6 linked regions of the Homo sapiens genome follow. The protein of the gene in region 3 interacts with the protein of the main gene of each other region in a biochemical or structural test. Each region holds a gene or a part of one and is shown on either strand. Other genes may lie near its edges.

Region 1 (3,500 bases), on a different chromosome or scaffold from region 3:
TTGGCGTTCCAGAAGAGGAGAATGGGACTAAAATAATATGTGAAGTGATAAGAACTGACAACTGCTAAGAAATGTCCAAAGGTCCACATTCCAAACCAATTGATCCACAATTAAAGAAATCCAACAAATTCTGAACAGAAAAAATAAAAAGAAATCTACACATGTGTATCCTATAATAAAACTAAAGAATGAAACCATATCTCAAAAAAATGGGGTGCGGGTCTTAAAAGGTGTCAAAAGAAAAAAGAAAATCACTTTCAAAGGGAAACAGCTACACCAACAGCTGATTTATCAGTAACAATGAAAATCAGAAGACAGTAGAATATCTTAAAAGTGCTGAGAGAAAACTGCCAGCTAAGGAAACAACCCAGTGAAAATATCCTTCGAGAAATACAGTTAAATGAAAGCATTTTATGTATTTATTTATTTATTTATTTATTTATGAGACAGGGTCTTACTCTGTCTCCCAGGCTGGAGTGCAGTGGCGTGATTCTGGCTCACTGCAACCTCTGCCTCTTTGGCTCCAGCGATCCCCCTACCTTAGCCTCCCAAGTAGCTGGGAAGCACACACCAACACACCCAGCTAATTTTTGTATTTTTTCTAGAGACAGGGTCTCTCCATGTTGCTCTGGAACTCCTGGGCTCAGGGGATCTGCCCACCTCGCCCAGCCAAAACTTTTTAAAAGACAAACTAAAACTGAAAGCATTTGCCACCAGTCAATCCTCACTAAAGGACATTCTAAAGACAGAAAGTGGTATCTTGCATATGAGATGTAAGAATCATCATCATTCACCATCATCTTGTGGAGGATGTGTGTGTATATGTAAGTGCATGTATTATACCAGACAACAACAGCTAAAGTAGGAGTACAGGGGATGTGAATAAAATTCAAGGGTTCTAAGGTTCTCGCATTGCTCAGTAGAAGGTGAAAGTACTGATCGAATGTGCTGTGCTTTCTAGGGGTAACCACTTAAAGAATAGAAACTGACTGCATGACTTAAAACAAGCACAGGGAGATAATGTAATGATTTTAAAAATCCAAAAGAATGGATGCCTAGCATACTAACTTTCTGCCTTTCTTTTTTTCTGTGATATGTGTTTATGACTATACTTTTAAAAAAATTGCCATGGCTGCACCTCACATGTTCTGATGTATAGTTGCTTAGAAGTGCAATTTCACAATTTTCAAATACGGAAATTTTATAGCTATCTTTTTGTGGTTAGTTTCTAGCTTAGGTGCACTGTGGTCAGAGAATACAGTAACAAGATTTTAAATCTGTTGAGACTAATTTTATGTTCCAGTTCAGGGGTGGCTAACTACAGTGTGTGGGCCAAATCCAGGCCACGGTCTGCTTTTTTGTACCAACAAGCTAAGGATGGTATTTGTATCTTTAAAGGGTTAAGAAAAAAAGATCCAGCACTTTGGGAGGCCGAGGCGGGCGGATCACGAGGTCAGGAGATCGAGACCATCCCGGCTAAAACGGTGAAACCCCGTCTCTACTAAAAATACAAAAAATTAGCCGGGCGTAGTGGCGGGCGCCTGTAGTCCCAGCTACTTGGGAGGCTGAGGCAGGAGAATGGCGTGAACCCGGGAGGCGGAGCTTGCAGTGAGCCGAGATCCCGCCACTGCACTCCAGCCTGGGCGACAGAGCGAGACTCCGTCTCCAAAAAAAAAAAAAAAAAAGAAAAAAAGATGAAGAAAAAGAAAGGGTGAAAGAGAGAAAGAAAGAAGTGACAGAAACTACATGGGGCCAGCACAGCCTGAAATATTTACTGTCTGGCCCTTTACTGAAGTTTGCCAATCCCTGGTCTAGCACACGGTCATTTAAAAAATGTTTCATTACGTTTCAATGTTTCAAAATGTTTCCAGTGCCTGAAAACAACATTCTGTGTTGCTAAGTGCCATATTCCCTAAGACCTTTAGATGCAGTTTACTAATTTTGTTGTTCACATATTCTGTATCATTACTGATATGTTTTTACTTGTTCTATCAATTATTGAGAGATATAAAAATCTCTCACTGTAATTGTATATTTGTCCATTTCTCTTTGTAGTTCTGTCAATTTTTGCTGAAATATTTTGAGCTTACATTGTTTTATATCTCTTTGTGAACTGAACCTTCTATCATGATGAAGTGACTCTTTTGTCTCCAGTAATGCTTTCTGCTTTAAAGTCTATTTTTATTGATGTTAACACAAACAGTGCTAGCTTTTTCTTGGTTAAAATTTGCCTGGTACATCCTTTTTATTTTTATTTTAGATCTTCCTGGAGGCGGTAGTAAGCATGGCAAGGCAAGAACAATAAATAAAAGAAATAATGATTAAAAGAAAGAAAAAATACTGTCATATTTGCAGCTGATATGGCTATGTAAGTAGTAGAAAGTACTTACATAGTAGTTAAGTTAGAAAGTTAAATAAATGAAAAATACAATACTGTTTATTAACAGCATAAAAATAAGATCCACCGAGAAATACCTCCAATAAAACTGTACAAGATTTTGATACAGAGACAATTACAAACTTTGGGAGAAAAAAAAAAACAAAACTAAAAAAAGGCCTAAACAAATGAACGGACATAACATTATCTCCAAGTTGACCTATGACTCAATGTACTCCCAAACAAAATCCCAACTGGGTATTAGCAGAACTTTCCAACTTAATTCTAAACTGTATATAGAATTACAGGGCCAAGAAGAGCCAACAAAAAAGGGCAAGGGAACTGCCCTATCACCTATCAAGCCATATTATTAAGAATGTTCGCACTATAGACAAAAGTTAATTTCATATGGATTAATGACTTAAATGTGAAAAGCTTTCAAGAGATAATACAAGAGAATATTTTCATGACTATGAGTTAAGGATTTCTCAAACAAGCAACAGGAACCCGATACATAAAGGAATAATTTGACAAGCACAGACTACATAAATAATTGTTTGTAAACAACAGGGAAAAGTGAGAAGACAAGTCACAAAAGAAAAAAAATTTGCAACACACACAATTGACAAAGGATAGTATCCAGAATATGTAAAGGTCTTCTAAAAATCAAAAGGAAATGACAACCCAATAGTTGCTTCCAAAGAAAAAAAAATTAAATCACCAATAACATATTAAAAGATACTCAACTGCAGGAAACAGCTCGGAAAAAACATAGATTAAAAACGCTGCAAAAATGTATTCTCTGCCAAAATGCTTGCTATTAATCATAATACAATTAGTCAACTACAGATGAATATATTTGCATGCTTCACATCTCCCTTGGTCATTTTCCAATTTTCCAATCATTTGCAATCATTATATTTACTATGTGTAAGTTTGTTTTCCCTTCATATAAACAAGTGTTGGTTCATAAACCAACAATGAGCAATGCCCTCTACGCTCTCATAGAACCCAGACCACTGGGTGGACTAGCCCCAGCTCTACCTCTAATGGACTTCTGGTACCTTACGCAGCCTTTCCTCCTGGGTTCCCTTATTTATTCGTGATTGCACTAAGTGAGCTC
Region 2 (3,500 bases), on a different chromosome or scaffold from region 3:
GCTTACTAGCTATATGTACAACCTGTTGGAATTAATTTTTAAAAATTAACATCTGATAGATTTAGTTAGGGAAAAGTAAATGCTCCCTTCTTAACCAGAAAGTAAACTGATTTCTTAGGTCAAAAGAAAAAATATTTTGAGCAAAGGCTACAACAGACAATTAAGTAGATGGATTACTACACCAGAGCTTTAGCATAGTGCCTAGTATACAGAAGATGAAACTCAATAAATTAAAAAAAGATATGACTCAGTAAATACTTGCTAAATTAATGATTTTTAAGAACGGAGGCTTTGTAGGGCAAAACATATTTAAAGAAGCTAACAGAGATAGGGAATGATTAGAAGGAAGAATCCCTAACTTTCCTGGTAATTATTACAACAAAAAGCCTGCTGCCAGGAACAGATGAGTTAAGATAAAGTAGAAGTAAAGGTTTTCAGAAACCAAACCAACAAAAAGCCAAGGGATAATGAATTATATACCTATCTAGTTCTCACTGTCTGTCTTTTATCCTTCATTGTGTCAGACTAACCTTACCCATAGTTAATATGTGATTTGGGGAGGCTTTATTCTACATACAAACTCTTCACTCACCATCTTTTCTTTTCATACTTTTCTTGTAGAAACTCTTTCACTTTTTGTGGATCCCTGAAGTCTGGAATTGCTGAAGATCTATCATCAAATAATCCTAGCCAAATCTGTTTACAGACCTTTGGAAAGAATTAAAAAAATATATGTTAAATTCAACATCTTCACTTAATGAAATTTTAAGGGGATACTATGATTCTTTCAGGAAGCTAATCTACATAATAATTTTAATAATATGCTTTCAATGAGGATACTAATAAACAGGAACTAAATTTATTTTTAATATGTTGCAGTATGCAGTAAAATTTTAGCAACAAAATCATTAAAAAGGGGAAATGAAGAGTGAAGTGGGATTTCAGAGGACCTGGGGTCTTTTCAGTCTTGGCATAATCATAAACTTCACCATTAGCAAAGTCATGTAACCTGCTCAGTTCCCTTACAAAACAAAGGAACTGAACCAATGGCTATTTCACAGGCCCTTTAGCAAGTCTAAAAAACCAAAAAGAACAAACAAAAATACTAGAATCATAAACACTTTAAAATTGTAACAATAAACACAAATATAAGGCAAACACACTATTAGCTTTATAGCTGTCTCCTATGCATTTTTGGTCCAATAGCTAAAAAATGAGAATCTGAGATATTTAACTTTCAGAAAAACCAAAAGAGAAATGAAATAAAATAGCACAAAAAGAACTATAAAGAGAAAAACTGATAAAGCAGACTTCATCAAAATAAAAAACTATTCTTCAAAAAAACTTAAAAAGTACAAAAATCAAGACACCAACTGATCAAAAGTATTTGTAAAATGTATAAGAACTTGAAACTGGAATATATAAAGAATTCCTACAACTCAATTATAAAAGACAGATAACCCAACACTTGTTTTGGTTTTTGTTTGTTTGAGAAAAGGTCTGTCTCTATCACCCAGGATGGAGTGCAGTGGTGCAATCTCAGCTTATTGCCTCCCAGGCTCAAGCCATCCTCCCACTTCAGCCTCCTGAGTAAGCTGGGACTACAGGAGTGCAGCACCACAGGTGGCTAATTTTTTGTATTTTTTGTAGAGATGGTGTTTCACCATGTTGCCCAGGCTGGTCTCGAACTCATGAGCTCAAGCGATCTGCCCGCCTCAGCCTCCCAAAGTGCTGGGATTACAGGCGCGAGCCACCATGCCCAGCCAACACTTGTTTAAAGCGGGGGCAAAAGGTCTGAACAAACACTTCACCAAAGATATCAGCAGCCCACTATCATTAGTCATGCATAAAATGCAAATTAAAATGACACTGAGGCCGGGTGCAGGCGGATCACCTGAGGTCAGGAGTTCGGGACTAGACTGGCCAAAATGGTGAAACCCCATCTCTACTAAAAATACAAAAAAATTAGCCAGGCGTAGTGGTGCATGCCTGTAATCCCAGCTACTCAGGAGGCTGAGTCAGAAGAATGGCTTGAACCCAGGAAGGGGAGGTTGCAGTGAGCCAAGATCATGTCATTGCACTCCAGCCTGGGCGACAAGAGCAAAACTCTGTCTTTAAAAAAAAAAAAAAAAAAAAAAAGACACTGAGACTCCACAAGACAGACATGCATATACTACTAGAAAAGCCGAAAACAAAGTGTGACTGCATCATGTGTTGGTAACAATGTGGAACAACCGGAATTCTTTAGAATGTAAAATGGTGTAAGCACTTTGGAAAACATTTGGCAGTTTCTCAAGAGTTAAACATAGACCTAGCATATGATGTAGCCATTCTACTTCTAGGTATTTATTCAAGAAAAATAAAAGCACTTTTCCACACTCAGACTGTACATAAATATTTGTAGCAGCTTTACTGATAATAACCCCAAACTGGAAATCACCCAATTGTTCATAAACAAGTGAATAAACAAATGGGAGAATATCCAAAGAAGAACATTATTCAGCAATTAAAAGGAGAAAACCATTAATACAAGAAACATGAATAAACCTCAAGATTATGCTGAAAGAAACATGTGCACCCCCCCACCAAAACGTATATACTGCATATTTCCATTCATTTAAATTTTTAATGTAAACCAGTCTACAGCGATGAAAAGCAGATCAGTGGATTCATTACAAAGGGTTGCACAATGAAAATATATGCTATCTTGTTATTGTGGTAGTGGTTTCATGATACATACAAATGTCAAAACTCATCAAATTGTACACTTTAAGTATGTACACGTTATCAGTTTAAATATCCAAGTTATCAACTATTCCTCAGCAAAATTATCAAAAACAAGTCCACGAGTTTCCAAAATACATTATTCTAAAGAATAAGCAATTACGACACTATGAAAAGAGCATAGTATCTGGTTTCAAAAACCCTGACAAGTATTTAAGAAATCAGGGAAGGAAAAGCGTACTTCTCAATCTTACCTGCTCACTGAACTGGGTATGGGAGAAATAAGAGAAAGGTTAGGAGAAAGGACTTGCCCTTCTCCTTTCCTATCATGTCCCCAAATCTGTTTCAAAACATTTCTTGTGGGTCGGGCGTGGTGGCTCACGCCTGTAATCCCAGCACTATGGGAGGCCAAGGCAGGCGGATCATGAGGTCAGGAGATCGAGACCATCATGGCCAACATGGTGAAACCCCACCTCTACTAAAAATACAGAAAAAACAAATAGCTGGGCATGGTGGCGCATGCCTGTAACCCCAGCTACTCCAGAAGCTGAAGCAGGAGAATCGCTTGAACCCGGGAGTCAGAGGTTGCAGTGAGCCGAGATTGCGCCACTGCACTCCAGCCTGATGACAGAGTGAGACTCCGTGTCTGTCTGTCTATATATATATTTCTTGTGGTTCCTTCCTATTCCAGGCTCAGTACAGATACTATAAAGTCATTTAGGAAGTGACAGTTAAAACGAGTGAGAACTAGAGTAAGGCACAATCCATTATGAAAA
Region 3 (3,500 bases):
ACAGAGGAAATTAGATAAACTGCAGCTATTATTATATTGCCAATCTGGTTTTTTGTTTTGAATGGTGAAATTACAAGCTGTAAAGCAAGGACAATATTCCTTTAGAAAACTGGGAATAAAAGTCAGTAAAACAAATGGTAGAAAAATCTCATGGGGGACAGGACAAGAGGAATGTATTCATTTTTAAATTAGAAGAGCTAATTTAGCTTTCTTGCTCTTTAGATGATAGGAGAATGAGAGGCTAGAATAAGAAGGTGAGAGGAGAAGAATTCCAGTAGCAGCAATTTTAGAAGAATTTGGCAAATGGGTCCACATTGCAAACTAAGTGCTATAGGAAAACAGAGTATCCAGCAGCCCAGGGAAACGAAAAATATTCAGTCACGAAGGTATCTGTCCAGTTTTTATTCAATGGAAAACACCAGTTCTTAGCCAAGCAGCTCTTTACTGAATACAAAAAAGAAGCAACTTTCAATAATACAAAACCTATTATCTTTAAAATAATCAATTACATTTTAAAGGAAATATTCTTAATCTAATAGTACTAGAAGACAAATTTTTTGCTTCAAATGCTTCTCAGTTAACTGGTCCTTTATAGGTTCAGTTTACCTACAGACATGAAACTGTGGTCTCAAAAACGAAGTCTCAAAATACAAATTAAAAAGCAAAACCAAAAACCTGCAAAACCATTCCTAACTATTGAAATTGGGTAATGGATGCATGGAAGCTTGTTAAAATATTTCATTACATTATTCTCCTTTGAGTATTTCTAAATATCCACAAGATGAAGATTTTTTTTTTTTTTTTTGAGACGGAGTCTCGCTCTGTCACCCAGGCTGGAGTGCAGTGGCGCGATCTCGGCTCACTGCAAGCTCCGCCTCCCGGGTTCACGCCATTCTCCTGCCTCAGCCTCCTGAGTAGCTGGGACTATAGGCACCCACCACCGCGCCTGGCTAATTTTTTGTATTTTTAGTAGAGACGAGTTTTCACCGTGTTAGCCAGGATGGTCTCGATCTCCTGACCTCGTGATCCGCCCACCTCAGCCTCCCAAAGTGCTGGGATTACAGGCGTGAGCCACCGCGCCCAGCCATGAAGATTTTTTTAAAGCCTCCAGATAAAACAGCAACTAGCTATAGGACCTTAAACATGTTAATTTTTCTAAGTCCCAGTGTCCTCATTTTTAAAATAGGGATATCAACACCTACTTTGCAAAATTGATGTGAAGATTAGAAACAATGAATGTAAAGCACACACCAGTACCTGGATCAGGCATGTGGTTATTAAACAGTGATTGCTGTAGGTATGTACATTCTCAAGAGAGCTTGACATTTAGTGAGAATTTGTACTTTGCAGAATTAACATTCCAGATGTGTCTATGAAATAACATAAACGATTTTATTTTTCTAAAATTCTTTTAATTTTCATTATTTCAATAATATACCAAACATTTCAGAAAAGTTTTATGTAAGATTGGCTTATAAATTTCCAATCATTTTTAGTATCCTCAATAGGATAAGATTTAGTCTCTTGAAAGATGAACATCACTTTTGGACTCCGTTCAGTCATTCCAGTTAATTCCAGTGGGTAATCAAACTATGAAATACCAGTCTGAACCAAAAACTAAATGAATTGGGATGAGACTGAAATTCTTATATGGTCCATTAGAAGTAATCTAAATGAGGGTTCTTTCATCACTATGTATTTCAAGAAACTTGCTTAGGACACTTATTATCCATTTAACTTAACAGTTTTTAATTCTCCCACTTACCGATGTAATACTGCTATTGTTGGCTGCACTGAAAGGGTCAGTGCTTGAAGTGGCAAAAGGATCAGTAGATTGCCTGAAGAAACAGTCTGATGCAAATGGATCTGAACCTTTGAAAGGATCACCACCAAATGGATCTAAAAAAATAAGGCACGAATATAAGAGACAAAAAAAAATTATTGCACTAAATTTCCCATCACTTGAAGGTATGATCAGTGCCTTAATTAAAAGACAGTCTGGGGCCAGGTGCAGTGGCTCACGTCTGCATTCCCACCACTTTGGGAGGCTGAGACAGGCAGATCACTTGAGGTCAGGAGTTCAAGACCAGCCTGCCCAACATGTCAAAACCTCCTCTCTACTAAAAAACACAAAAATTAGCCAGGCATGGTGGTGCGCACCTATAGTCCCAGCTACTCGGGAGGCTGAGGTGGGAGACTCACTTGAACCTGTGAGGCAGAGGCTGCAGTGAGCAAAGATCTGCCACTGCACTCCAGCCTGGGTGACAGTGAGACCCTGTCTCAAAAACAAACAAACAAAAAGACAGTTTGGGCCAGGTGCAGTGGCTCACACCTGTAATTCCAGCACTTTGGGAGGTTGAGGTAGACGGATGACTTGAGCTCAGGAGTTTAAGACCGGCCTGGCTAACACAGTGAAACCCTGTCTCTACTAAAAATACAAAAATTAGCCAGGCGTGGTGGTGCGCGCCCGTAATCCTGGCTATTCGGGAGGCTGAGGCATGAGAATAATAGCTTGAGCATGGGAGGCGGAGGTTGCAGTGAGTCAAGACCGCACTACTTGTACTCTAGCCTGGGCAACAGAGCAAGACTGTCTCAAAAAAAAAATCCAAAAAGACAGTTTGAAATACTGTAGAATCTAAGCTGAGTACTTTTTATTTCACAGACTCCTTTGCAATTTTGATAAAAGATACAGAACCTTCCACCTAATAAACTTATTTTTAAAATTAACATATAATTTCAAGGGATCCAATTTTAAGTCCCCTTATTCTACGCTACCGTAACTAAAGAAAACACAATAAAAACTTCTAAATGTATTTTTCTCTCTGAGCTCAAAGCTAACAGCCAATAGTTTAGAACAGGTTTGGGATGCAAAACTAAATGGTAAACAAGATTTGCATTATTCTAATGAAAATTCCCAGAAAAAGAATATCTCAAAAAGCCTGATGTTTTAGTAATTCTTCAAGATTCTCTGCCTCTAATCACACGTGTGGGCTATAATCTTAGGAAAACAAAATTACATTCTAAACCCTGAAGCAGTATAGATCATTATGCTCACCAAACCTTTAGTTAGTAAGGAGGAATCAGAATAAATATTTAAAGCACCAAAGTCTAAACACTAATGTCATTTTTAAAAAAGTAAAGCTATCGGGCACAGTCGCTCACACCTGTCTGTAATCGCAGCACTTTGGGAGGCTGAGGCAGGAGGACTGCTTGAGCCCAGGAGTTCGAGACCAACCTCGGCAACACAGTGAGACCCTGTCTCTACAAAAAATAAAAAAAAATCAGTCAAGTATGCTGGCATGAGCCTGTAGACCTAGGTACTCAGGAGGCTGAGGCAGGAGGATTGCTTGAGCCCAGGAAGTCAAGGCTGCAGTGAGCCATGATCACACCACTGCATTCCAGCCTGGGTGACAGAATAAGACCCTGTCTCAAAAACAAAAAACACCAAAAAAAAAAAAAAAAAAAAAAAGAAGAAGTAAAAGTAAAGCAACAATTCATTA
Region 4 (3,927 bases), on a different chromosome or scaffold from region 3:
CATACCTGTGAGTCTTCTAACTTCAGACCTTTTAGTTTCCCTCCAAGTCCTTCCATCCATGTAGAGACAGCCCTTATCACTACTTCTTCTCCCATATCCATCCTTTTTCTCATAGCCCACATGAATGAGACTCAGGCAAGAGTTCACATTGGAAATTGGGTGTAATTGCATCTCAAGATAGGCATAAGCAGAGCTTAGACTGGGGCCCCCCAGTGGTATAGTGGTACAAGTGGTTGACTCACACACAGCACCTCCACTATGTTTTGGCCATTAGTCTTCCTCGTTGACTCTGGAACAACATTGCCTCCACAGCAAAGGACTTCATAGTAAATTTGGTTTATAATGCAGCTGTATTCAAAAATGGGAGAGCTAGGGAACTAGGATATGGGAAAAAGGCACAGAGGAAAACGTATGGTTTGAATGAATAAGGCTCCTACGACTGTCTCAGCTTCTCCACAGCAGCATCCACGTCGCCCCCCGTAGCAATGAGGGCCTGAAGATTGGCTTCACGATTCAGAAAGCCCATGGACCGCAGTTGCTCCAGCTGCACCTGAAAGTGAGCCTCAGGCTGCAGCTGCTGGGGATTTGTACTAACTAAATCTTGCAGCATATGGAGAAAGGGAGGGGAAAGGAAGCCCAGCTCTGCAGAGTCCAGTGCTGGGAACACCTCAGGAGGTGGATTTGGGAGAGGATCCTCAGACATAAGGGGATCTTCTCTAGACTCTATACCTCCTGCCACACTACCCGTCCCTGCTAGGCAAGGCATGAACCAGAGTAGGAGGCGAGGTGCTTCAGTAGCTAGGACCTGTAGACCCTGCTCAATCTGCCGCAGGGCTTGCAGGGCACGGGGGTTTGCCATGGCTGCCTGAAGGTGCATCAGCAGTGGCAGCTGTGGTTGTATCTCATCCTGTAACTGTGGAGCTGGATTCATGCCATCTGGCCTCAGAGATCTTGGATAAGCCGGGGATGGCAGCCAGGGAGGCTCAGGGATTCCAGGAATGGCTGCCGTGGGGGAAAAAGATAAGGGAGCAAATGGAACCCTGTTGGCAGAATCTCCCAGCCCCGAGACAAGATCAGGCAAGTTTGTGCTATGTCCAGTAGAGCTTTTCCCTGCACCATCTTGGTCTCCACCTTGTCCAGTACTGTTCTCTGTGGGGTATCTCAGGAAAGCTGGGCAGGAGGACCTTCCCTTGATTGCTACTGACTCCTCGGGGAGAGGCTGGCCTGACCCAGGCTCCTGAGATGAGGGTGACGATGGGGGAACTCTGTTTACTGATGGTGGTGGTTCCTGGCTTTGGCTGAGGGCAGATGCAGTCCCCTGTAGATAAGTTCCTAGGGACTGGGGGTTCTCGTGTAATTGCTGGAGATAGTCATAGAGCCTTATAATACCCAGAAAGTTTGGAAACCTATTTCTAATGTCAGGTGCATCCTGATCCCCATCCTGCCTTCCTTGCCTGCTACCTGAGCCTCCATGTGTGGAAGTCCAGGGGTTGGGGAGAGGGTCACAATTCTCCATCCTTGAAGGTTGGCTGGTGGTGGTGGTGGCATTATCAGTAGTGGCAGTGGCAAAGGGATTGCCGCCAAACTGCTCCTGGACTGCGTTAAGCATTGGGTCCATAATATCTGTGTACATAGTGCAAAGCACATTGTAGCCACCAGGAATGCTCTCCAAGTTACTGAGCACCCGGTCCTGGCTACGTATCATCTCCTGCATCATGGCAGGGTTACGTAAAAACTCCAGTGTCTGCCGCATAATTTCCGGGTTGTTAAGAATATGCCCAATCTCAGGGTTGTGCTGGATCAGCTGCTGCATATGGGGGTTGTCAAGAACCAGCTGGCGTACTAGGCCTGTGTTGGACAGCAGACCCGGGATGAAGGGGTCATCAATGAGCTGAGTCACAAACTCAGGCACAGACACATGCTGCCGCATCAGGGAGCTTGGCTGGTCAGGGAAGCCACGATAGGCCAAGCCCAGCCTACTGAGGCCTGTGAGGAGACCTAAGCTAAAGGCAGGGGGCCCATCTGCTGGGTAAATGGAGCTTGGCTGAGGGAGTGATCCAGGACTTGGGCCCTGGGTAGGGACAGAGGCAGCTGGGCACTCATTGCCCATGGCACGGTGCTGCCTCTTGATGACCAGGTGGACAGTGAGGCCATCTCGCACTCCACACTGTGCCAGTGAGTCAGGATCCTTGAGGATTTTGCCAGCAAAGATTAGAACAAGCTGATCGGGGTGGGCCTTAAAGCGCTGAGATATCTCTTCCTTCAGCTGCTGGATAGTGCATGTGTCTGTAACTGAGAAATCCTCCTTGTCTTTGGGCGTCTTCACTGTCACCTTGATGAGGTGGGGATCCTGGACTGGTGCTGGGCTGCCCTGTGGCAGGGCTTCTCCACCTTTGGCCATGGTGGCAGCAGGAGGCCCAGATCTGTGGGGACACAGCTAGGGGCATGGGGATTGGAGACCAAGATCATCCTTTCAGGCAATGGCAAAAGTAGGAAGGGTGAGTATGAAAAGGGTCTTGAATATCAGGATAGGGAAATCTGCAGGGTCTACATGAAAGGGGCCATGAGGTTTCTGGGGCAGGATGCTTTAGGAAGATTGCGGGATTGAGATATGTTGGAATCAGGGGAGGGAAATGCAGGGCCCTGGGAAAGAGGTCTGTAGTTGATGAATACAGGGACAAAGGTAGAAGGAAGGGCCCAGCTGGGGTGTACATACCAGTCAGCTGTGGTCCCGTCCTTCTCTTTATGCAGGGCTCCAAACCTCCCTCATCTTGCTACACAGCCACCCCTGAGGCCTTCTGGGCCAGAACCCGCACTATCAGGTCCCTTCTGTGACCTCAGTGCTGACGTCACAGCCTCACACAGAGAAGATTCTTGAGACTTCTCTAAGGAGCTCGGGATCCCTGGGAACTCTTGCTCTCCCATCTTTTACCACTTCTACTTCCTCCACCTCAAGTGCCTTCCTGTGGAGACTTCTGTGGAGGCTCAGACTGGGATTGGAATGTTATAAAACATCTCTCAGTCCTCTCTGTCTCCATTCAGACCCACATTCAGCTACTTCCTGGTCCAGGGTCTTCTTCCTGGTATCCTATGTCCCAGTTTTCTGTCTTATTCAACATTAACCATGAATTCTTTACGTATTTTCAAAGTATTGATTCGCTGATGGATAGGATTTGGGGTATAAGGGAGGAGTCAAGCATGAGATAACTTTTTTTTTACTTTAAAAGAAATTGTTATCCCCAAAGGAACTCAAAGGATTGAATATTTACTAAGACAAAGATTGGGAATAAGCACTTTGTCTAAATTAGCAGGTTGTTAAACAGTTTTACATACATTTGAGATGTCTATTTTACATACAAATGGAGATGTAGTATTGTAGTTTAATATTATAAGTCCAGAGTTTATTAGCATTCAAAGGGTACTTAACATCATGGACTGGTTTAGATTAGCTAGTTAGTGCATACAGGCAAAATGATAGAGATTTTAAAATCTGAGTTTTGTGGCTGTATAACATTTAGAAATCTGGAAGATCAGAAGAATTTGGCAAAGGAAACGGAGAAAAAATAAAAGAGTAAGGTAGAAAAAAAGAGAGAGAAAAGAGAAAGGCCAAAGGAAGAAGAGTTTCAAAAAGGAGAGAGTAACCAATCATGTGAAATGATGCTGCTAGGTCAGGAGGATGAGGATTGAGAATTGGCCACTGGATTTGAAAAAATAAAGAATTGGAGACCATGATGAGACTAGCTTTGGAAGGATAGTAGAGGCAGGAAGCCTAATCAGAGTGTGTTTAAAAGCAAATGGTTTGGGAAAAAGTAGATCCAGTTAGGGCATTTTAAATGCAAGAAAGGGGATGACGGCTATGTGGGGATGTGGGGTTAAAGGCTTTTTAGATTTTTTTCTTAAGAATAGTGTAATGATGTTTATATTCTG
Region 5 (3,500 bases), on a different chromosome or scaffold from region 3:
CTAAAAAGCAAACTAACCCACTTATTGTAAACTCATCAAGCATTTAATGGCTATAATGGCATAAGTGTGCCTCTTGCATTTCTGCTGCTCTCTTCAGACACATACACTCCACCACTCCTCATAACTGAAAAAGCTCCAGATTATACCTGAAAATTGGCGACAATGCCCATTCCGAAACATCCCACCAATCCAAGCACTAAAGACACCAAGTTAAAAACAGGAGTGCTGAAATAGCAGGTTTGATTTTGCTTCTGTACTATTTTGTATCTTGTATACATCGTGGCTGCACCTGAAAAAGAAGAGAACTTTGATGAATGTTCATAATTTGATGTCTTTAGGATGAAAAACAGGAGCAGCTTTGTATCACTTTTTAAAAATGTACTGATTGCAAGTCTCCCCACTTTCCCACCCCTGTCCCTCCTGACTCCATCTTACTCTCTCCCCAGCATGTACAGACACACACACACACACACACACACACACACACACACACACACACACCCCTTGGCTGTTGTCCTTTTCATGTAAATGCTATTATAGTACATGTATTACTCTGTGACTTGCTTTTTCCATTTAACAGTGTACCATGGAGATCTTTTCAAGCAAGTACAAACAGATCTACTTCATTGTTTTCAGGGATCTTATCATGGTCTGTGGTATGAGATACTATATTTATTCCTCATTCTCCTAAGAATGAATTTCTACATTGTTTCCATGTTTTTCCTGCTACAAACAACACGCCATGAATATCCTTGTATATAAATCTTTGGGTTTCTGAAAGACCAGTTCCTAGAAGTAATATTACTGGGTCAAAAAACCATGCACAATTAGAAACACCTCCAAATTGCTCCAGCCCGTTGACGATTTAGACTCCCACCAGCAGAATTTGCGAGCAATTGTGTATGCCCTTGCCTTTTTAATTCTGTCAGTCTAATAAATGAAAATTCAACCTGTTGGGTTAGTTTGCATTTCTCTGATCATTAGCAAGATTTAGCAACTTTCAGTATATCTACTGGTCATTTGCATTTCTTCTTCTGAGAAATGCATGTTTACAATTTTCTTTTTATTCTTCTCTTGGGCTTGTCGATATCTAATTTGTAGTTACTTTTTACACATTATGTCCATTAGTCTATTATCTGCTATAAATATTACAAATTTTCTTCTGCTCTGCTATTTGTCTTTTAACATTGTATCTTGTATCTTACATCATTTGAAAGTTTTAATTTTTAATCTACTCATATCTATCAATTCTTCTGCGTTTTGTGTTTCTATTCCAAGGTTTAAAAAATATTCTCCTGTAATTTAATTATTGCATAGTTTTGCTTTTCATGTCTATTAAATTGCAATTGGTTTTTGTGTATGATGTGAGGAGGATAGTAAAGGTATGTTTTTCCAAATAGCTAGTCAATTAACCAAATACCATTTGTTGTAATTTGGCAATAAAATGTAGCCTCCATGAGAGCAGGGCTCTTGTCTGTTTTGTTGGCTGTTGTAAACTCAACACTAAGTCATAAACAAGCACAAACCCTATCATATAGTACATACTTAGTAAATGTTGAATAAATAAATAGCTACCATAATTTTAGATACATATTCCCTTTAACTCAGCAAATTTATCTTATAGAAAAACTCACACAAATATGCAAAGATATATTTAAAAGATGTTCACTTCAACATTAGAATTACAAAATACCAGAAATAGCCTAAATGTTGGACAATAGGGAACTGATTAAATAAATGATAATACATCCTTGTGAAAGATATCATGCATGTGTGGAAAGGATAAAGTAGATGTGTATATATTTACATAGTATGACGGCCATAATCTATTCCTGAATTTTTAAAAAGCAGGCTAAAAACTAATAACTTATCATAAATCTTTTTTTTTTTTTTTTTTTGTGGAGACAGGGACTTGCTCTGTCACCTGGGTGGGAGTGCAGCGGCACAGTCATGGTTCACTGCAGCCTTGACCTCCTGGGCTCAGGCAATTCTTCCACTTTATCCTTCCAAGTAGCTGGAACTACAGGCACACATCACCACACCCAGCTAACTTCTTTTTTCTTTCTTTCTTTCTTTTTTAACTTTTTGTAGAGATGAGATCTCACTACATTGCCCAGGCTGGTCTTGAACTCCTGGGCTCAACAGATCCTCCTGCTTCAGCCTCCCAAAATGCTAGAATTACAGGCATGAGCTCACATAGACTATTTCAAATGAATATATTTGTCAGTTTCTGCTTTATTCAGAAGCAAAAGCCGTATTTATCACTTGCTGTGATAAAATAATCTCTCTGTTTTCCAAGTCTGGATTCTTGGCAAGGATGGTGTAAGAGGGCACTGGGATTGACTGACTCCATATTGCTACTTCCCCTTGCTCACCTCCAAAACTTTAGGAGGACTACAAATGGTGATGCGGTGAAACTTTCCTGCTACCAAGTAGGATGAACAAATTCCAAAATGCCAAGTCACTAAGTAGGGTCAGCATCACTGTCCCTTCTCACACTGTACCAGTAGAGAGGAACAGAAAGCGTTGGTTACAAGATAGGCCCTTGGCAAACACTTGATTGTTTGGGGGGAGATTATAGAAGGACTAAGAGAAAATGCCCCACATCTGATATCTATATACTTGAATCACCTTATAGAAGACTGAGCTTTACATTAATTATACAATAGTTGTAATTAATATGCATTACATTAATTGGCTTATGACAAGGTTGCACCCTATCATCTGCATCTTAGGTACATCTGAGGAACTGAAAAGAAAAATCATACTATTCCTTGCTCCACCTGTCCCCTTTCTCTAACAGGTAAGATAATGCCTTTGTCAATGGTCCTCAAACTTTAGTGAGAAACCAAGTCCCCTAGAGTGCTTGTTTACAACACATCTTCAGGAACCCACACTCCCAAAGGTTCTGGTTGAGTAGCATGGCCCAGGAACCTGCATTTTACGAGAACTCCAGGTGACTTTTCATCAGCTTGCCTTCAGAATACACTTTGAGAAACTTAGCTTACGCATTGGGTGTCTTTGGCTTACATAAGTGTCTTGACCATAAATCAACACTTTTAAAAACTAAATTGCACTTAAAATCCGTTCCAGAAGTTTGGTATTTAAAACCACCTACAGCAAATCCTGTTACAAATTACTAATTAAAGTATAGTTCTCTAATAAAGCCATAATTTTTTATATCTTTTAACTTCAGTTTCTCAAAATAGGACAAAAATCTAGCTGCAAAGATTGTGCTTTTAAAAAAATTATACACAAGGCCGTGTGCAGTGGCTCACACCTATAAGTTCAGCACTTTGAGAGGCCAAGGCAGGTGGATCACTGAAGCCCGGGAGCTCAAGGCCAGCCTGGCAACATGGTGAAACCCCATCTCTACAAAAAACTACAAAAAATTAGCTGGGCGTGGTGGTGTGCACCTGTAGTACCAGCTACTCCGGAGGCTGAGGTGGGAGGACTGCTTGAGCCTGGCAGGTTGAGGCTGCAGTGAGCCGTGATCACGC
Region 6 (3,500 bases), on a different chromosome or scaffold from region 3:
GAGTTCGAGACCAGCCTGGCCAAAGTGGCGAAACTCCGTCACTACTAAAAATACAAAAGTTAGCTGGGTGTGGTGGTGCACACCTGTAGTCCCAGCTACTTGGGCAGCTGAGGCATGAGAATTGCTTGAATCGGGGAGCAGTTGCAGTAAGCCAAGATCATGCCACTGCACTCCAGCCTGGGCAAGAGCGAGACTCCATCTCAAAAAAAAAAAAAAAAAAAGAGAGAGAGAATCAGAAAGAAGACATTTTAAAATTGACAGAAAACCATGTACAATTTTATGTCATTATGCTGGAAAGAGAAAGAAAACCTAAACTGTTCAAAAGGCCGAAAACTTCAGAAGAATGTGGTTACCTGTAAGTACAAATGGGGCATGGCGGGGAAGGAGCAGACAAGGATTACTATCACTTTTCATTCAACATATCCTGTAGTTTGAATTTTTAAAAGCAATCCCATTTATTTATAGAGATATTAAAATTGTAATAAAAATATTAGCACGACAAATGTAATAATGCATTTTTGTAAATACACCTTGACTAAGTAGGGTTTATTCTGTGAATGCAAGAATGACTTGACATGAGGAAATCTACAGTGAATCTACAATTCACTACGTTAAGACATTAGGAGGGGAAAGAAAAAGACATTAGGAACCATATACAATCTCAAGACCATATGCCAGTCATCAATACCATCTCAAATGTCAAAACTCAACATCTACTCAATGTGTTGAGCATGACGACATTCTTAGAAAGCTAGAAATAGAAAAAAACTTTCCTTCATCTCATTATGCATCCACCACCACGATTCATCTCCGTAACTCTTTTCACCTTGTAAAACTGAAGATCTATACCCATTAAACAATAATGTAGCTTGAACATTTTACAGGAATCTTTATTGTTCATAAAAAAATACATAGTTCTAAAAGTTGAGGTACACCTAAAAACTTACACTTTCTGCATAACAAAGTAATTCAAAAAGCTGCTTGTTTGAACGTGGCAACTGATTACTTGACCGTACGCGTGACCGTTCAGAAGTCTGGTTTTTCAACTTCAGATTGAAGAAACGTGATCTGAATGGAATTGCAGTCTCCATGGCCGTGCTTGGAGTATGAGTCCCATTCTGCAGTGAACCTATGCTTTCCTTTTGGCAAAATTCTACGACAGCATAGAGACCCTATACCAAAAACATAAGAAAAAACAGAACACATTTCACGATATATCTAACATACTATTTTAGCTCATATATTAAAACAATTATCATAATGCTACAAAATATCAAGTCTTTAAAATTTACAAATGATATGATTCTAACATAGCATTAATTTTATTCAATTTAAGTAGATGAAGAAAAGGAACACTGGGCCGGGCGCAGTGGCTCACGCTTGTAATCCCAGCACTTTGGGACATGGAGGTGGGCAGATCACCTGAGGTCAAGAGTTCAAGACCAGCCTGGCCAACATGGTGAAACCTCGCCTCTACTAAAAATACAAAAATTAGCCAGGCGTGGTGGCAGGTGTCTGTAAGTCCAGCTACTTGGAAGGCTGAGGCAGGAGAATCGCTTGAACCCAAGAGACGGAGGTTGCAATGACCCAAGATCATGCCACTGCACTCCAGCCTGGGCAACAGAGTGAGACTCCATGTCAAAAAAAAAGAAACGGAACCTTAAAACAATGTTAGTTAAGAGAAGCTGAAAAGACTGAAAAGAATGATGAAGCAGAAAAATCCAAAGGCAAAACAAAGATCCCCTCCCACTGGCCTTCATCCGCAAGTTAAAGAGACTATCTAAAGTATTCAAGCTGGGTGTGGTGGTGCAGGACTGTAGTCCCAGCTACTCCAGAGGCAGAAGGATCACCCGAGCCTAGGAGTCGAGGCTGTAGTGCAATATGATCGTACCTGCCAACAGCCACTGCACTCCAGCATAGGCCACATAGTTGGACCCCGTCTCTTAAAAAATAAAATTAAGCATTCAAATAATGAAATCAGTCATAAATGACTTATAATCCTAAAATACCGCTATAAGAATCCCATATCAAAAACAAAACTCATTAAAGAAATCTAGATAAAGAAGATGCAGTATATCAAAGAGAACCTACCTACCATATTGCAAAAAGCAACAGCAAAAAACAACTAATGGAGACCTCCACCCTTGAAAAGCATAAACGTTAAGTTAGATTGTTTTTCAAATACTTACAAAGCTTTCATAGAAGAAATGATTATTAATAGGTCCAAATTGGGATAAATATTTAAGAAACTTGTTTTCACTGATTTTCTCTGGGCAATGTATTAAAACAGTCCGCTGTGCCTGTTCTCGTCTTTCATTTTGCATCTCAGAGAATCTCCTTTTGGGAATCTTGTCTTCAAAGCCTATGAACGAGACAAAAACATTTCCACCACACGCACACACACAAAATTTTAAAAATATTTTGATAAGGTGTTTAAAGACTTCATATATGACTAAAACCAACTTCACCTAATCTATTTTTTCTCTTCCTTTATAAGGGTTAAACTATACTACAGTAGTCTCCCCATTACCCACAGGGGTTATGATCCAAGATGCCTGTAAATGCTTAAAACCTCAGATATTACCAAGCCCTATATATACAATGTTTTATCCTACACATACATTGCTATGATAAGGCTTAATTTATAAATTAGGCACAGTAAGAGATTAATAACAACGGGCCGGGCTTGGTGGCTCATGCCTGTAATACCAGAACTTTGGGAGGCTGAGGTGGGTGGATCACCTGAGGCCAGGAGTTCGAGATCAGCCTGACCATGGTGAAACCTCATCTGTACTAAAAATACAAAAATTAGCCAGGCATGGTGGCGCGCGCCTGTAGTCCCAGCTACTTGGGAGGCTGAAACAGGAGAATCACTTGAAACCAGGTGGCAGACGTTGCAGTGAGCTGAGATTGCACCACTGCACTCCATCCTGGGCAACAGAGCGAGACTCTGTCTCAAAAAAAAGAGACAGAGATTAACAACAACTAATAATGAAATAGAACAATTCTAATATACTGTAATAAAAGTTATATGAATGTGGTCTCTCTCTCTCTCAAAATATCATATTGTACTGTGCTCACCTATTTGTGGACCACAGTTGACTGTGAGGAACCGAAACTGTGGACAGTGAAAACATGGATGAGGTGGAATTACTGCACTTTCAGTGTTCGTTTGACTACTCTCCCATGACTACTATTAAAACTGCCCACTTTCTCTGTTTTGATTTACTATGCTTGATGCAAAGTGCTGAAAACGGAGTTCCACAAAAAAAAAAAAAAAAACCAGGAAACTAAAATCACTTATTTAATACTTGTACAAATATGCACACACAAAATTGTGCAAATTGTAACATTCCAAAGCCTAAAAGAAATTATTACAAGCCTGAGTGTAATGAGACAATGAGTTTGGAAATTCGGTGTTTTGACATAAGCTATTAAGGCATTTTTCTTTCTCAAGGGTCTTGATCTGGCTCAAACAATTAACAGTGAGTTACCAACTA

The links.
Region 1: the proteins of EPS15 (region 3) and CDC40 interact in a test that uses a peptide from one of them, tested with the Homo sapiens proteins (one large-scale study listed by BioGRID and IntAct).
Region 2: the proteins of EPS15 (region 3) and AGFG1 form a complex in vitro, tested with the Homo sapiens proteins (one study listed by BioGRID).
Region 4: the proteins of EPS15 (region 3) and UBQLN3 interact in a test that uses a peptide from one of them, tested with the Homo sapiens proteins (one large-scale study listed by BioGRID and IntAct).
Region 5: the proteins of EPS15 (region 3) and DRAM1 interact in a test that uses a peptide from one of them, tested with the Homo sapiens proteins (one large-scale study listed by BioGRID and IntAct).
Region 6: the proteins of EPS15 (region 3) and MTPAP interact in a surface display test, tested with the Homo sapiens proteins (one large-scale study listed by IntAct).

What each region holds. Positions count from the first base shown.
Region 1 is NC_000006.12:110,183,427-110,186,926, reverse strand, and holds part of CDC40 (pre-mRNA-processing factor 17), read right to left. Parts: intron 1-3,500. UniProt on the Homo sapiens protein: Required for pre-mRNA splicing as component of the activated spliceosome. Plays an important role in embryonic brain development; this function does not require proline isomerization.
Region 2 is NC_000002.12:227,517,156-227,520,655, reverse strand, and holds part of AGFG1 (arf-GAP domain and FG repeat-containing protein 1), read right to left. Parts: intron 709-3,500; coding exon 593-708; intron 1-592. UniProt on the Homo sapiens protein: Required for vesicle docking or fusion during acrosome biogenesis. May play a role in RNA trafficking or localization.
Region 3 is NC_000001.11:51,397,267-51,400,766, forward strand, and holds part of EPS15 (epidermal growth factor receptor substrate 15), read right to left. Parts: intron 1,900-3,500; coding exon 1,766-1,899; intron 1-1,765. UniProt on the Homo sapiens protein: Involved in cell growth regulation. May be involved in the regulation of mitogenic signals and control of cell proliferation. Involved in the internalization of ligand-inducible receptors of the receptor tyrosine kinase (RTK) type, in particular EGFR.
Region 4 is NC_000011.10:5,507,158-5,511,084, forward strand, and holds UBQLN3 (ubiquilin-3), read right to left. Parts: upstream 2,801-3,927; 5' UTR 2,717-2,800; intron 2,471-2,716; exon of another isoform or gene 2,438-2,470; 5' UTR 2,402-2,437; coding exon 434-2,401; 3' UTR 143-433; downstream 1-142.
Region 5 is NC_000012.12:101,898,080-101,901,579, reverse strand, and holds part of DRAM1 (DNA damage-regulated autophagy modulator protein 1), read right to left. Parts: intron 290-3,500; coding exon 147-289; intron 1-146. UniProt on the Homo sapiens protein: Lysosomal modulator of autophagy that plays a central role in p53/TP53-mediated apoptosis. Not involved in p73/TP73-mediated autophagy.
Region 6 is NC_000010.11:30,339,279-30,342,778, forward strand, and holds part of MTPAP (poly(A) RNA polymerase, mitochondrial precursor), read right to left. Parts: intron 2,363-3,500; coding exon 2,190-2,362; intron 1,173-2,189; coding exon 948-1,172; intron 1-947. UniProt on the Homo sapiens protein: Polymerase that creates the 3' poly(A) tail of mitochondrial transcripts. Can use all four nucleotides, but has higher activity with ATP and UTP (in vitro). Plays a role in replication-dependent histone mRNA degradation.